Regions from separate parts of the Homo sapiens genome. Here region 2 is linked to region 1. Evidence: fine-mapped expression QTL. A gene starts in region 1. The other region holds a variant in brackets. All regions are shown on one strand. Distances are between the middles of the regions.

Region 1 (2,904 bases):
GGCATGTAAGTGGATTTAAAGCATGGGATGGGACCAGGTCATCTAGGGAAGGAGGGTAGTGATGGAGAAGAAAGAGGGCCTGGCCCAGAGCCCTGGGACCTCCAACATCCAGAGACCTCACAAGGAGGGGCCACAGAGAGCCCACAGAGACCAGCCAGGGAGGGAGCAGGACACCTGGAGGATGAGGTGATCTAGACGCCAGAGTAAAGTGTTTCCAGAAGCAAGGGTTTGTCATTTGTGTCCTGCTGTGGGCACTGAAGGCAAGAACAGAGAAGTGACCAAGGGTTTTGCCATCACAGAGGTTGTTGATGACCTAAATATCCGTGGAGTGTGGGTCTGACTGAGGAGGTGGAGGGAGACAGGCAGTGGAGGCAGGAGACAGCTCTTTCCAGAACCTTTGCTGGGGAAGGGGAGCAGAGACATGGGCTGGGGCTGGAGAGAACCCGGGACAAGGCAGGTCCTTTCCAGGTGAGGAGACGCCTGCACGCTGCTGTGGTGATGCAGTGATTCTGTGCAGAGGGAAGAAAACTGCAAAATTCCGCACAAGTTGGAGCAGGGAGCTGGAGTGGGGGAGGTGGAGAGGGCGGGGGGATGCAGAGGACAAGACGGGGGGCCTCTTCAGAGCAGGGACCCTTCCTGATGGAGGTGAGGGATACTGTCCCCACTGTCGCAGTGAGGGGTGAACCTGAGCTCTGGGAGGCTGTAGTGGGGCAGGCACTCACTCTCCGGGTTGTCACAGGATTAAAGGAGGGTGCTTGGCACAGAGTGATGCCCAGTGAAGGTGTTCATGAGCGTCGGTGTCACCCAGCGGCGCCTGCTCATTGGACACTTGGTGTCTTTAATGAGCTGGGGAAGCTGGGGGGAAGCTTGGGCGGGGTGGTTGGAGTTTGTGTCTGAGGCTCCACTGGGGCAGGAGGGGACCTAGCCTGTGCCCTTCTCGCGGAGCCTGACCTCAGCTCTGTCCTGCGCCCGGGCCTGTGCGCTGGACACGGAGGACTGACTCGGGGGCCCCCAGCCCAGGGCGGAGCCGGCCCCCTCCCTGTTGCGGGTCGCGGGCCTAGCCTAGAGCCTGCGCCTGGCCGGGGAGACCTGCTGGGAGGGAGTGCGTCAGGGCGCGGGCGCCCGCCCTGCTCTGTGACGCGCGGCCCGAGGCGCACGCAGGGCTCACACCACCTGTCCTGGCCTCCGACCCGGGCCGACTATGGCGGCGCTGCGGCTCCTGGCGTCAGTGCTCGGGCGCGGGGTCCCCGCCGGCGGCTCAGGGCTCGCGCTGTCCCAGGGCTGCGCCCGCTGCTTTGCCACCAGTCCCCGGCTCCGTGCCAAGTTCTACGCGGACCCGGTGGAGATGGTGAAGGACATCTCTGACGGGGCGACCGTCATGATCGGGGGCTTCGGGCTCTGCGGGATCCCCGAGAACCTGATCGCCGCGCTGCTCAGGACCCGCGTGAAAGACCTGCAGGTGGTCAGCAGCAACGTGGGCGTGGAGGACTTCGGCCTGGGCCTCCTGCTGGCCGCCAGGCAGGTCCGTCGCATCGTCTGTTCCTACGTGGGCGAGAACACCCTGTGCGAGAGCCAGTACCTGGCAGGAGAGCTGGAGCTGGAGCTCACGCCCCAGGGCACCCTGGCCGAGCGCATCCGCGCGGGGGGCGCCGGGGTGCCCGCCTTCTACACCCCCACGGGCTACGGGACCCTGGTCCAGGAAGGGGGCGCCCCCATCCGCTACACCCCGGACGGCCACCTGGCGCTCATGAGCCAGCCCCGAGAGGTGAGGGAGTTCAACGGCGACCACTTCCTTTTGGAGCGCGCCATCCGGGCAGACTTCGCCCTGGTGAAAGGGTGGAAGGCCGACCGGGCAGGAAACGTGGTCTTCAGGAGAAGCGCCCGCAATTTCAACGTGCCCATGTGCAAAGCTGCAGACGTCACGGCGGTGGAGGTGGAAGAGATCGTGGAGGTGGGGGCTTTCCCCCCAGAAGACATCCACGTTCCTAACATTTATGTAGATCGCGTGATAAAGGGGCAGAAATACGAGAAACGAATTGAGCGCTTAACGATCCTGAAAGAGGAAGATGGAGACGCTGGAAAGGAAGAGGACGCCAGGACGCGCATCATCAGACGCGCAGCTCTGGAATTTGAGGACGGCATGTACGCCAATCTGGGCATAGGCATCCCCCTGCTGGCCAGCAACTTCATCAGTCCCAGCATGACTGTCCATCTTCACAGTGAGAACGGGATCCTGGGCCTGGGCCCGTTTCCCACGGAAGATGAGGTGGATGCCGACCTCATCAATGCAGGCAAGCAGACGGTCACGGTGCTTCCCGGGGGCTGCTTCTTCGCCAGCGACGACTCCTTCGCCATGATCCGAGGGGGACACATCCAACTAACCATGCTTGGAGCCATGCAGGTTTCCAAATACGGCGACCTGGCGAACTGGATGATCCCTGGCAAGAAGGTGAAAGGCATGGGCGGTGCCATGGACTTGGTGTCCAGTCAGAAGACCAGAGTGGTGGTCACCATGCAGCACTGCACAAAGGACAACACCCCCAAGATCATGGAGAAATGCACCATGCCGCTGACCGGGAAGCGGTGCGTGGACCGCATCATCACCGAGAAGGCCGTGTTTGACGTGCACAGGAAGAAAGAGCTGACGCTGAGGGAGCTCTGGGAGGGCCTGACGGTGGACGACATCAAAAAGAGCACGGGGTGTGCCTTTGCTGTGTCCCCGAACCTCAGGCCCATGCAGCAGGTGGCACCCTGACGGGACCTGGATCTGGGCGGGGTGGTGCGCTCCTCAGGGCGGGTGCCACCGGGTTCCCCAGGGGAATACATGTCCCCAGCTCTGGGAGGGGTTTGCTACTGGCCTCCTACTTTCCTCCCTAGGTGGACAGTGCTCCTCTAGAGAGCTGC
Region 2 (2,904 bases), 38 kb before region 1:
ACAACAACAAAAAATAGATCTAGATGTGTATGTGTCTGAACACACACATTGACGTAGTTCCTTGTTCTGTCTGCTGAGACTGCCTGAAATCAGTGGCACTCTGGCAGCACTGAACATCTTTGGCGCCCATTATAGATGGCATTCTCAGTGCTGGACTAGGGCTCCTTGTGGGCTGGAGCAAGAAATGTACAAGATGAACCTAGAATACCTTGCTGTGCCAGGAAATAAATAAATGCTCAAAGAATTATGAAGACACACTAAAGGGCGCAGCTGCCAACTTGAAGCATCTTCCACTGGCCAAATCTAAGATAGTATGACTTTCAAAATAGGTATCAAGTAATGGATTGTAGTTCATTGAGAAAAATAGGAATCCACGTGTTTATATGATATAAATAGATAAATGAATAAATACATTGGGGAGAATGGAAAGCTCTGTTTCGTCATAGAATAAGAATATTAACTAATAAATGTAAAAAAATGTTGAAATTAGAAAAACCTTGGCCTAGAGCAGTGGTTCACACCTGTAATCCCAGCACTTTTGGAGGCCGAGGTGGGTGGGTCACCTGAGGTCAGGAGTTCGAGACCAGCCTGACCAATATGGTGAAACCCCATCTCTAGTAAAAATACAAAAATTAGCTGGCTGTGGTGGTGGGTGTATGTAATCCCAGCTACTGCGGAGGCTGAGGCAGGAAGATTGCTTGAACCCAGGAGGCAGAGGTTGCAGTGAGCCGAGATTGTGCTACTGCACTCCAGCCTGGGCAACAGAGTGAGACTCTGTCTTAAAAAAATAAAAATAAAAATAAAAAAAGGGAAAATCTTCACTTGGCAACCATCGTAGTAGTAATTGATTTGGGTTGAAACTGGGTGAAGCAACTTTGATATGGAACAGGATATTTTTATACTCTCAGAACATCTCCCTATGAAATATTTATTCATTACTCATCACTTAACACGTACTAAATACTGTTAACTTTCCAGTGGAGAAACCTGGCAGACATCATCTTAGCCAAGTGGTAAACATTAACATCAGCAGTAATGGGACAAGTTGACATTGTGTGACTCCTAATATGGTACACTGAGAAGAATGTCGCATCGTTTCTGTGGTATTCCTGCCAGAGATGCATAAATCATGAGGACACAGCAGACAAATCCAAACTGAAGACAACCTACAAAGTCATTGACCTGTATTTTTCAAAAATCTTGGCCAGAGAAGGGAAGCCTGAAGAATTGTTCTAGAATAAATTAGACTGAAGAGACTCCTTGAAGGCGACTGAATTGGATGCTGGGCCTGTAAAGGTAATTTGGGGGACAATTAGTGTAATTTGTTGTTGTTGTTGCTTGCTTTTTAGTTTTTTTAAATTTTTATTTATTTATTTATTTTATTTTTTATTTTTATTTTTATTTTTTTGGTATTTATTGATCATTCTTGGGTGTTACTCGCAGAGGGGGATTTGGCAGGGTCATAGGACAATAGTGGAGGGAAGGTCAGCAGATAAACATGTGAACAAGGGTCTCTGGTTTTCCTAG[A/G]CAGAGGACCCTGCGGCCTTCCGCAGTGTTTGTGTCCCTGGGTACTTGAGATTAGGGAGTGGTGATGACTCTTAAGGAGCATGCTGCCTTCAAGCATCTGTTTAACAAAGCACATCTTGCACCGCCCTTAATCCATTTAACCCTGAGTGGACACAGCACATGTTTCAGAGAGCACGGGGTTGGGGGTAAGGTTATAGATTAACAGCATCCCAAGGCAGAAGAATTTTTCTTAGTACAGAACAAAATGGAGTCTCCAATATCTACTTCTTTCTACACAGACACAGTAACAATCTGATCTCTCTTTCTTTTCCCCACATTTCCCCCTTTTCTATTCGACAAAACCGTCATCATCATCATGGCCCGTTCTCAATGAGCTGTTGGGTACACCTCCCAGACGGGGTGGCGGCCGGGCAGAGGCGCCCCCCACCTCCCAGACGGGGCAGTGGCCGGGCGTAGGTGCCCCCCACCTCCTGGACGGGGCAGCTGCCGGGCGGAGGGGCTCCTCACTTGGCAGACGGGGTGGCTGCCGGGCGGAGGGGCTCCTCACTTCCCAGACAGGGCGGCTGCCGGGTGGAGGGGCTCCTCACTTCTCAGACGGGGCGGCCGGGCAGAGACGCTCCTCACCTCCCAGATGGGGTGGCGGTCGGGCAGAGACACTCCTCAGTTCCCAGACGGGGTCACGGCCGGGCAGAGGCGCTCCTCACTTCCCAGACGGGGTGGCGGCCAGGCAGAGGCTGCAATCTCGGCACTTTGGGAGGCCAAGGCAGGCGGCTGGGAGGTGGAGGTTGTAGCTAGCCGAGATCACGCCACTGCACTCCAGCCTGGGCAACATGGAGCACTGAGTGAGCGAGACTCCGTCTGCAATCCCGGCCCCTCGGGAGGCCGAGGCAGGCAGATCACTCGCGGTCAGGAGCTGGAGACCAGCCCGGCCAACACGGTGAAACCCCGTCTCCACCAAAAAATGCAAGAACCAGTCAGGTGTGGCGGCGCGCGCCTGCAATCCCAGGCACTCTGCAGGCTGAGGCAGGAGAATCAGGCAGGGAGGTTGCAGTGAGCCGAGATGGCGGCAGTACAGTCCAGCCTCGGCTTTCACAACTTTGGTGGCATCAGAGGGAGACCGGGGAGAGGGAGAGGGAGAGGGAGAGGGAGACGAGGGAGATGAGGGAGACGAGGGAGACGAGGGACGAGGGAGAGGGGAGAGGGCAGAGGGGAGAGGGGAGAGGGAGAGGCTTTTTAGGTTTTTTTGAGACAGGAACTCACTCTGTCACCCAGGCTTGAGTGCAGTGGCGTGATCTCGGCTTACTGCAACCTCTGCTTCCTGGGCTCAAGCGATCCTCCCATCTCAGCCTCCCAAGTAGCTGGGACTACAGGTGTGCA

Evidence for each region. PIP is the estimated chance that this variant, and not a neighbour inherited with it, causes the effect.
Region 2: its variant is the best candidate, but not a certain one, in a credible set for the expression of OXCT2 in whole blood (TOPMed, PIP 0.51).

What each region holds. Positions count from the first base shown.
Region 1 is chr1:39,769,553-39,772,456 of GRCh38, reverse strand. OXCT2 (3-oxoacid CoA-transferase 2) reads left to right here and starts at 1,109. Exons shown (of 1, transcript NM_022120.2): 1 at 1,109-2,904. The coding sequence starts at 1,202. The coding sequence ends at 2,755. All of the region lies in intron 3 of BMP8B (bone morphogenetic protein 8b), which reads left to right. RefSeq lists enhancers at 390-1,062, 1,063-1,736 and a silencer at 1,077-1,176.
Region 2 is chr1:39,807,446-39,810,349 of GRCh38, reverse strand. LINC02811 (long intergenic non-protein coding RNA 2811) reads left to right here. Exons shown (of 4, transcript NR_186710.1): 3 at 979-1,296. It overlaps LOC130932201 (a long non-coding RNA gene), which reads right to left. Exons shown (of 4, transcript NR_186719.1): 3 at 2,152-2,348; 4 at 915-1,288. Among named protein-coding and RNA genes, the nearest start is that of LINC02811, 8.6 kb to the left of the region's middle. The variant A/G (reference allele first, on the strand shown) is at 1,528.